Regions from separate parts of the Homo sapiens genome. Here region 2 is linked to region 1. The links come from fine-mapping of genetic effects on gene expression. A gene starts in region 1. The other region holds a variant in brackets. All regions are shown on one strand. Distances are from middle to middle.

Region 1 (5,378 bases):
CGAAACTTCGTCTCAAAAAAAAAAAAAAAAAGACTGAGGCAGGTCTCTCCTCCAGGAAGCAGGGTTAGGTGACCCCCTTGGTGCTCCAGTAATATCCCAAGTATATCACAGTGTATATGACTATCTACTCATAAATCTGTTATCCGTATTATTGTGTGAACGTCTTGGGAGAAGGGGCTGTGGCTAAAATTCATCTTTGCAACAGCAATGACCAGTCTAACATATGACACACAGTGGTGCTTCAACCATTTGCTCCCTTGTACACTCAAAAGAACCATTTCTTGGCCAGGTGTAGTGGCTCATGCCTGTAATCCCAATACTTTGGGAGGCTGAGGCAGGAGGATGGCTTGAGGCCAGCAGTTAAAGACCAGCCTTGACAATATAGTGAGACCCCTATCTCTACAAAAAAATTTAAAAATTAACTGGTGTGTGGCATGTACCTATAGTCTTCGCTACGCAGGAGACTGAGACTAGAGGATTGCTTGAGCCCAGGAGTTTGAGGCTGCAGTGAGCCATATGACTGTGCCACTGCACTCCAGCCTAGGTAACAGAACAAGACTCTGTCTCAAACAAACAAAAACAAAGAAACAAAATTTCCTGATAGATTTGCAGTACAAATGAAAGAAAGCCCCACTCTCCTTTCCTGTTTCTGACAACCTGAAATGTGGAAAATATAAGTCCACTCTTGGGAGAGAAGGGCTTTTAGACTTCTGGCGGCCCAGGGTCACACAGGAGTAAAATTAGCCTAAAGGTCATGCAGCACTCAAGGAGCAAACTTCTCTTCCTCATGCAGGAAGAAGTACACTTGGCAAAGATCTTTGCAGGTATGTTCACAGTACACTTAGCAAAGATCTATACAGATATGTTCAAGTAATCCAACAATATGCATGCAACTGATTCACTTCCAATATAGTTATATTGACTATTCACTATCGTAGCAGCAGGAAGCCATGAGAGTAGTTCACTGAGTTCTACTTTTTCCCGTTCAGGAAATTAAATAATGGAGATGTGCAGACTATAACTGGCACACAAATTAGGTCACCAACCCAGAAGAATCCAATCCTGGAGGAAATGGCTGCACTAGGTCTTAAAAGATCCAGAAAGATACCCAGCGTGTTCCTCTGAGTAGCTTTTGTGTTGTGGGAAGTATTTGTAGTCTTTGGAACTACTTTCTTTTTCTGGTTAAGGAAATCAAAATATAAGTCTCATCTTTAGAACCTGGACATTATTTCATGCATGTGGAAAATACCCATCCCAAACAGTGCTGGATGAGTCATCTGACCCCAGAGAAGCCGGAGATAATGCCTCTTCCAGACTTCCTGTCTCTCTTTTGCAAGACTTTCCATAATTCTGCCCCTGCATCTCTCCCACATCATCTCCTCTAATTACCAGACGCCAAGTTTTCTAATAGCCTGCCTTGGAAAGAAGAGTTTCCACCCACTCATGCCTCCAGATTCGCCTTTCAAGCACTCCCTAATCACAAGTCCCGCCCCACCTACACACACACTCTCTCTCCCGGAACTGTGACAGGAACTGTAGAGAAATTCAGGAACTCAAGAAGAGAGAAATAGAGGTAGGGTGACTACTGCACGTTTCCCCCTCATTTAAATTTTTTCTTTCTTTTTTTTTTTTAAGGAAGCGGCAGACCCGCTTTCTAAGTTTATGCAGAAACTGAAGCGCTGGCAAGTCCTCCCTGCGGCCTCAGGGGTGTGGCCCACTGTGGCTGCATCCGGACAGGAAGAGTCGAATCCCAAAGATGCTGCTAGATGTGCCGAGAGATTCCTGATCCAGCCAAAACATGTCAGAGCAGAATGAGGGCCACGGCGTCGGGCATGGTGACCCTCAGTAACAGTCCGAGCGCTCGGACCCGAGGGCCGTCCCATGCGCAATCCTGACGGCTCTTGCCTGCAGCCCAGGTCGGGCCGGAGGAGGGGCCGCTCCCCGCTCCCCGGCTGTAACAGACAAAAGGCTCAGGGAGGGTATCAGGGGACCCGGTGCTGACCCGGCAGAGGCAGGGTGAACAAGCCCGGGGTCAAGCGAAGCCGCACGACGGCCCTGACGGCCCGAGACGTGCCACGCCTGGGTCCCGACACTCCACTTACGTCGTTGACTGTCTCTAACCAGAGCCCGAGCTCAGGGACCGCGCGCACAGCCGCCGGGGTCCAGCACAGGAGGCAGAGGGCGACGCGCAGCAGCGGGGCCCGGGCGGGAAAGCAGCGGCGGCGGCGTGGCAGGAGCCCGGCTACCGAGCGGCAGGCGGCGACCATCTTGACCAGGAAGCTGCACCTGGCGCTCCGAGACGCCTGCCACACCCGCACCTGGTGCAGCACCGCCCCAGGCAGGCGGGTCCGAATCCGGGACGCGGGGCTCGGACTCGGGTGTGGAGGAGGGGCTCGCGCTTGGGCCTGGGCGGAGAGGCGCCGTGCAGTTCTGGGAAACCCGGCCAGGACCGGGAGGCAGGGCTTAGGGCTCTGAGCCGGGCCCGAGCGTGCAGCTGGGAGATGCCTGGAAGGCAGAGATAGGAGCCAGGATGTGGAGTTGGCGGCGAGACGTGGAGGCTGGGCTCAGGGCCTAGCGTGGGCGTGAAGATAGAAGAGGAGCCGGAACGTGCAAGGGAGGGCTGGCAGCCCGAGCGCGGAGGCGGGGCCGGGTAGGGAGGCGCCGCCGGAGTGTGGAGACGAGGCGGGGCTCGGGAGTGTGGGGGCGGGGTGGGAGGCGTGGCTCGGGGCCAAGCTGGGTGTGGGGACAGGGCAGGGTTGGAGGCGGGCTCGGGACTGTGGAGGCGGGGCGGGGCTCGGGACCAGGGCGGAGTGCGGAGGCAGGGTGCCCCAGGAAGGAAGAGCTTGGGGCCAGGCCGAGCGTGGAGGCGGGGCCGTGTGGAGGCGGGGCCGTGTGGAGGCGGGGCCGTGTGGAGGCGGGGCCGTGTGGAGGCGGGGCCGTGTGGAGGCGGGGCCGTGTGGAGGCGGGGCCGTGTGGAGGCGGGGCCGTGTGGAGGCGGGGCCGTGTGGAGGCGGGGCCGTGTGGAGGCGGGGCGGGGCTCGGGACCAGGCCGGAGTGCGGAGACAGAGTGCCCCAGGAAGGAAGAGCTTGGGGCCAGGCCGAGCGTGGAGGCGGGGCCGCGTGGAGGCGGGGCCGTGTGGTGGCGGGGCCGTGTGGAGGCGGGGCGGGGCTCGGGACCAGGCCGGAGTGCGGAGACAGAGTGCCCCAGGAAGGAAGAGCTTGGGGCCAGGCCGAGCGTGGAGGCGGGGCCGCGTGGAGGCGGGGCCGCGTGGAGGCGGGGCCGGGATTTGGAGGCAAGACCCGGCGGGGAGGCGGAGCCTGAGCGTAAAGGCGGGGCTGGTCAGGGAGATGGGGTCGGAGTGGGGAGGCGGAGTTGAGGACCAGGCAGTAGTGTGGAGACGGGGCTGGACGAGAAGGGCTTGGGGTTAGGCCGTAGTGGGGAGGCCAGGTTGGGCGAGGAAGCAGGGCTTGGAGCAAGCCCTAGTACGGAGACGGGACTGGGCGGGGAGGCGTGGCCTGAGTGAGGAGACGGGCCTGAGTGGGGAGGCGGGGCCTGAGTGGGGAGGCGGGGCCTGTCTGGGAGATGAGGCGCAGTGGGGAGGCGGGGCTCGCCGCCAGCGAGCGCGAGTGTCAAGGTCCTGGAGTCGAATGCCTAGTAAGTGCTACGGTTGGAGTGCAGTCTAGAGTTCTGTTCCCAGGGTGTCTCCATTTCTTGCGTCTTCTACACTTACCCCTGCCTCGACCCTCTCAGCTGTATGGAAACCGTTCTTTAAATTCAGGGAATGTGCCAGGAAAGTGCTTTGAGGCCAAGGCCAGTTGAACACAAGGCATTGTGTTGTGAAGGTTAACGTTAATAGGACAGTTAATACTTTTCAGAACAAGTAGTTACTTGACTGGCTTAAAGCTCAGAGGGGTCAGGGCTTGGATCCGTCTTATTGTGTACCTTCCCTTGCATTTTCGGCTGTAAGCTGAATACATGTTTTGCTGTCAAAGAGAATTAGTTCATTCATTATCAAATGTAAATAATATCCAGCAAGGGAATAGAATCCTGTGCTAATATTGTTATTAACGTAGAATAAGATCGATTTATAGTCCAAAGGCCTTGGCTGCTTTACCAGTCACCAGTAATTATTGAGGACCTACTATACACTAGAGATTGCATGTGCATCTTCCCAGTAAGCAACGTGATCAGTTCTGTTTAGGTCAGAATAACTGTAACAGGACCACAGGGGAACATCCACCAGAGATTTAGGAAGTAAGTGAGGGACAGAAGGAGAGAACAATACATGAAATTTAAGTTCTACAAGAAGAGTTAAGGGCGAGTTACCTGTGGGAGTGAGGGGTAAGTCTGAAATCGTTTTAGTTACGAGAGAACTGGAGGAATGGAAAGATCTTCCAGATGACTGGATGTTGGTGTGAGACGGAGAGTGGCAAAGCTGGGAATATTTAAACAGTACCAAAACATACAGGCATTCCTAAATTAAGTTAGGCAGATGGCACCTTTAGTTAAGAACACTGGAGAGGCAATGATTTTTTGTTTTGTTTTGTTTTTGAGACTGAGTCGCGCTCTGTCGCCCAGGCTGGAGTGCACTGGCGCGAACTCGGCTCACTGCAAGCTCCGCTTTCCTGGTTCACGCCATTCTCCTGCCTCAGCCTCCTGAGTAGCTGGGATTACAGGCGCCAGCCACCACGCCAGGCTAATTTTTTTATATTTTTTAGTAGAGACTGGGTTTCACCGTGTTAGCCAGGATGGTCTCGATCTCTTGACCTCATGATCCGCCTGCCTCGGCCTCCCAAAGTGCTGGGATTACAGGCGTGAGCCACCGCGCCCGGCCCCAATGATGGTTTTTAAGTAAGGATGAGCTGATCAGAAAGATCGTGTTGGTTGTCAAATTGGGAAACAGGAGCATAGGAGAGCCAGGGTGACACCATTTTAAAAATAACTCCATCTTAAAACTAGCAAGGTACATTTCTTGCCAGTCACCACCCATGGTCGTAAGATGTTTACAGTGGCTGGGCACGCCTGTAATCCCAGCACTTTGGGAGGTCAAGGCGGGTGGATAGTTTGAGCTCAGGAGTTTGAGACCAGCCTGGACAACATGGCGAAATCCTGTCTCTACACGAAATACAAAAATTAGCCAGGTGTGGTGGCGTGCCTGTGGTTCTGGCTACTCAAAGAAGCTGAGGCGGGAGGATCACTTGGGCCTGGGAGGCGAAAGTTGCAGTGAGCCCTGCACTCCAGCCTGTGTGACAGAGTCAGAACCTGTCACAAACAAAAAAAAGAAAGAAAGAGAAAGAAAGCAAGAAAAGGAAAAAAAAAAAAGGAAAATGAGGAAGGTTAGAATGAACTATAATGCTGGCTTGCAACTGATGATATC
Region 2 (5,378 bases), 56 kb before region 1:
CTACATCTTTCTGTAGAGTTATGAATCTTTCTGTAATGCTACATCTTTCTGTAGAGTTATGAATCTTTCTGTAATGCTACATCTTTCTGTAGAGTTATGAATCTTTCTGTAATGCTACATCTTTCTGTAGAGTTATGAATCTTTCTGTAATGCTACATCTTTCTGTAGAGTTATGAATCTTTCTGTAATGCTACATCTTTCTGTAGAGTTATGAATCTTTCTGTAATGCTACCTCTTTCTGTAGAGTTATGAATCTTTCTGTAATGCTACATCTTTCTGTAGAGTTATGAATCTTTCTGTAATGCTACCTCTTTCTGTAGAGTTATGAATCTTTCTGTAATGCTACCTCTTTCTGTAGAGTTATGAATCTTTCTGTAATGCTACATCTTTCTGTAGAGTTATGAATCTTTCTGTAATGCTACATCTTTCTGTAGAGTTATGAATCTTTCTGTAATGCTACCTCTTTCTGTAGAGTTATGAATCTTTCTGTAATGCTACATCTTTCTGTAGAGTTATGAATCTTTCTGTAATGCTACATCTTTCTGTAGAGTTATGAATCTTTCTGTAATGCTACATCTTTCTGTAGAGTTATGAATCTTGAAGTTTAACTGTTTTGCAGCAAGGCCTTCTCAAACCTTCCCATCCCAGTACAGTCAAATAACAGACTGATGCCAAAATCATTTCCTTCTCTTTCAACGTATACAGCTCTGGCCCCTCTTATGTGCTACAGCCACCATACAAGTTACAACTTAGCTACCACTAACTTCCCTCCACTCGTCCTTTTTGAAAGTTAATGTTCCGTGCATCCAGTCTTTAATTCTTACACTTCAGATTTCTTCCCGCCTTGTGCCACACAACTTAATGTCCAAGTGATCCACAGCTAATTTTTTTCCCAAAAACTTTCCTAAATCCACATCCTCTATCCAAATTTCCTGCTTAGTAAATGAAAATGAGATTGAAACTTTAATATCTCAGCAAAATGTCTACAAGTATCAGAGATTAATTTAGACAAACTGCCATCTTAAAATCGTTTAAACTCAAGATTTCATAAAATAACCCTTCATTTCCTTCATACCAGTAAGTATTTATCTTGTTCTTGTTTGAAATGGGGACTTTATTCATAAATCCTTTCAACTTTACCCACAAATCAATTCATAGCATCTTTCTGTCTGTTCAATTTATAATAATCTTAAAAAGTAGCTTTCAGAACTTCTTTCTGAAATACATCTCTACTTTGTGAAAATATCAGCTCCAAGGAAATATGCAAAAATATATTTTACCTCATCTGAATCCACTAACACTGGAAGAGCTCTGAAATAAAAGGGAAAAAAAGGTGATAATGTTGTTAACAGTAAGGCCAGTGTATCCACGAAAGCCGAATACAGGCACATGCCATGGCCCACTAATTCTCACTCCTGGGTATCCACAGGTGACAGAAGGGAGCATCTAGGCTCGCAGACAGACATGCAGGAGTTTTCGCAGCAGTGCTGTTCTCAATAGCACTCAACTGAAAATAACCCCAATGGGTAAATTGCGGGTTATTCAGACAATGGAATACTATACAGCAAAGCAAATGGATGATCTATTGAGGGATAACATTTTAAAACCTGACACAAATAATCTACAGTTGTAGACTTCAGGACAGCAGGACCTTTGGGAAAGTGGGCTCCTGATGTGAAAGGGAAATAGGAAATGGGCTTTTTAGAGCACTTAGTGTTATTCTGTTTTTTGATCTGGGTGACGATTACACAAATGTGCTCATCCAAAAATTTTATTGCGGACCTAACCCATTTATGAGTAAACACATTATGAAAGGCGGTATTTACAGAATCCAGCATTTGCTTAACTTCTGTGTCATTATGACCACTGCCTGGATGTCTGCCAGCAAAGGGTACCAGAGAGAAGTGTTATATAACAGAACTTTTGCTCAACAAAGATAATATAGATATAAAGAAAAGACGAATGTAACAAATGTTAAGTAAGTTTAATCTAGCCTCAATGTGTGACAGAGGTCTGAGGGAGGAGAGCCTGAAGGAAATGTCCAAGTTCCAAAGTTTTGCCATGAAAGAGCCACGCACAACGCCAGAGGATGCTACCTACAGTGCGGTCCATGGTGAAGCCAGGAGGGCCAGGAGACTGACTAGGTGTGAGGAAGGAGGCAAGGCAGACTGTTTGGAATAATACGATTAAGGAAAATATGGGGGAGAAGACGGCGTTAGAGGAAAGGTGAACCAGAAGGCAGTCTGCTACACGCTTGGCACCTTGTTTAGAGCTAAACACTAGCAATATCAACAACGGTCCCTGCTATGACGTTAATGAC[T/C]ACTTAAAACTTATTAAGAACGATTCAGTGCATTAAAGAGGGAGATAAGCTATGCTAATGTCACCTTCATGGGTTATCGAAGATGAGGAAATTCACAGTGAATATCATACCAATATCTCATAATACATATCATGTGGTTATTCATGATCTGTTTAAAATGTCCCATGACTTATAAAATTTTTGTTCCATTTCCACAGATGTATAAGGGGAAGGCTTTTCTCTGTGTTTAAAGTCTAAATACTAAACTTGCTATGTAAATTGTACATTAATTTTGGATAGTATTGGGCTACATTTCTTGTGTTAAAGTTTTCGTAAGTGAAGAAGCAAAGGTTCCCAAGAACCTAAAATTTTGGAAATCATCTTAGATTATAGAGCTCTACTCATTTCACATAAATGGTTCATGAAGACATCAAATAAGAAGTTCAGTCTTCTATATTTCAAAGGATTTTTTGTAACCAAGAATATATTTCTATCTACAGAAAAAAATAGTAGAGAATGGTGACTTCCTCACATGCAAAGAGAACTACCTAGGAGCCTTATTGGTTTCCAGCAAGAAGTGATGGCACAGTAGGAGGTAAGCCTGCTTAAATAATTTCCTTCTAAAATGCTTAGTTATGAGTTTCCAAATCTGGAAAATAATGGTGGCCACCTAATTTGAATCTCTCCATATAGTCTTGCTCAAAAAACCATAAAATTACTAAGGATCACAAACAAAACCACAAAAGACACATGCCTTCAGCATTACCAAAAAAACACCACAAACTTGAAATTATATGTAAATAGAGAAATAAATGTCAAATTCCAACAGATTCCCTGCTGTGACTGCAAGCTCATGGGTACACAGAGTAGGGAAACAGAGGGTTGAGAGACTTTAGGAAAAATAGTAGAGGGGTGGGAGGACTCAGACAACCGTAGACAAAATTCAACCCCTCCAAAAAAGCCCAACACTTAGTGCCAACAGACTGAATAAAACCAGTGACTTGGAAGAAGTTCACAGCACCTGCTACACGGAAGGGGCTCAAATCGAGTGGGACAAAAAGCAGCACCCTTGAACGATCATTGTTTTCAGGAAAGGATGATATATAAAAAAGAAGAATATTCCTTGGAGATGTGATCGTGTAGTAAATAAAAAGAAGACAGTAAAAAGTTGGGGGGGGCGGTGGGAGAAGGTCTGCAGAAATAAAAGAAAAATAAAACAACACCAACCTCTCCTACTCCATACCATCAACGTCATCCATAAAAGAAACTACAATTCATGCGCACTGATGGAAAAAGGCACTCAAACCAGGAACCTTCATCATAAAAGCTCTCAGAATGGGAAAACAAAATCAATTCCATATAACAGTGCAGGAAAGAAAAAAGAAGGAAAATGAAAATCAAAACATTTTACAGTAGAAGAAAACTATAGTTATAACACACAATACTCCAAATTAAATACAATAACTTAAAAAGAACATTTGGCAATATTAAAAACATTCTACAGTAAGAAATCTAAAAACCAAGAGCAGAAGTAGATAAAAACAAAGCATGAAGAAATTCAAAGAATCAATCATAATCAGAAAAAAAATTAAAGAAAAAGACAAAAATGATTCCAGTGCAGTGATGCAGAAAAGTACAAGGCACCCAAGGGAGAATAAATTCAACAGAAATCTTAATGTGTGGTAGGAAAACAACATAGAAAATGAAACAAAGAAGGAAAAAAGGATCACAGAGAATGTGATTGCAATACAAGAGAGCAAGTAAAGCTGGACAGAAAAGGTCAGATGATCCCTTCCACAAAAAACACTGACAAAACCTGGACCAAAATGTCAAAAATAAGTAGCTAGCCGGGTACAGTGGCTCATGCCTGTAATCCTAGCACTTTGGAAGGCCGAGGCAGATGGATCACCTGAGGTCAGGAGTTCGAGGCCAGCCTGGCCAACATGGTGAAACCCCGTCTCTACTAAAAATACAAAATTAGCTGGGTGTGGTGGCGCCTGCCTGTAATCCCAGCTACCCAGGAGGCTGAGGCAGAAGAATCACTGGAACTTGGGAGGCAGAGGCTGCAGTGAGCTGAGATTACGCCACTGCACTGCACTCCACCCTGGGTGAAAGAGCAAGACTCCGTCTCAAAAAAAAAAAAAAAAAAAAGTAGCTGAAGGCACTGGAAAATGACCATGGGACATGGATCTGAGAAGCTCAACAAATTCCAAGGAGGATAGACAAAAAAAAAAAAAAAAAAAAAAGACCATACTTAGGCATATCATAAACACAATGCAGAAAGCCAAATATAAAGGAAAAATCAGAAAAACAGCAAAAGATAAATGTCACATCACACACATGAGAACAATACAATTAATGACTACTTTCTCCTCAAAAACAACAAAAGCCAGAAGATATTGGAAAGACATGTTGGAAGTGCTCAAACAAAAGTCAATCAAGATTTCTATATCCAGCAAAACTATCCTTTAAAAAGGAAGGAAAAGTAAATACATTTTCACATAAATAAAATTGAGAGAATTTGTTGTCAGCAGACCTATCCTATAAGAAATATTAAAGAAAGACCTATAGGAGGAAGGTCTTAGCTCATATATAGAGGAAAGAAAGAAGAAAAAGTAAATACATGGGAAATATAAAAGAATATATACACCCATATTTTCCTTTTCTGACTGCTAAAATAAAAAAGTATAACAGTGTATTGTTAGTTTCATAATGAATAGGCAGTTCTTACTTTGCACAGACTATTTATACATTAATTTCAGTTATCACAGTTTAGTTAAATAACACTAGTCCCCCAACAAGACAGTTTGAATTCCATAGTTAAATATATTTAACACTAGTCCCCAGCAAGGCAGTTTGCATTCCAGTAACTCATAAATGCGATGACATATCACTTCATAGTCACTAAGAGCTAAAATCAAAAAGGTGGACAATAATAAGTGTTAACAAAAAGTTTGGAGAAGTTGGAACCCTCATATATTGCTGATAGGATTATAAAATAATGCAGCTGCTTTGAAAAACAGCTTGGCACTTCCTCAAAATGTTAAACATAGAGTTACCATATGATCTAGCAATTCCA

Evidence for each region. PIP is the estimated chance that this variant, and not a neighbour inherited with it, causes the effect.
Region 2: its variant is the best candidate, but not a certain one, in a credible set for the expression of TMEM87B in whole blood (TOPMed, PIP 0.76).

What each region holds. Positions count from the first base shown.
Region 1 is chr2:112,052,481-112,057,858 of GRCh38, reverse strand. TMEM87B (transmembrane protein 87B) reads right to left here and starts at 2,590. Exons shown (of 19, transcript NM_032824.3): 1 at 2,103-2,590. The coding sequence starts at 2,267. RefSeq lists enhancers at 1,449-1,788, 1,819-1,888 and silencers at 2,619-3,348, 3,549-3,598.
Region 2 is chr2:112,108,832-112,114,209 of GRCh38, reverse strand. It overlaps TMEM87B (transmembrane protein 87B), which reads right to left. Exons shown (of 19, transcript NM_032824.3): 18 at 1,281-1,311. Among named protein-coding and RNA genes, the nearest start is that of FBLN7, 27 kb to the left of the region's middle. The variant T/C (reference allele first, on the strand shown) is at 2,321.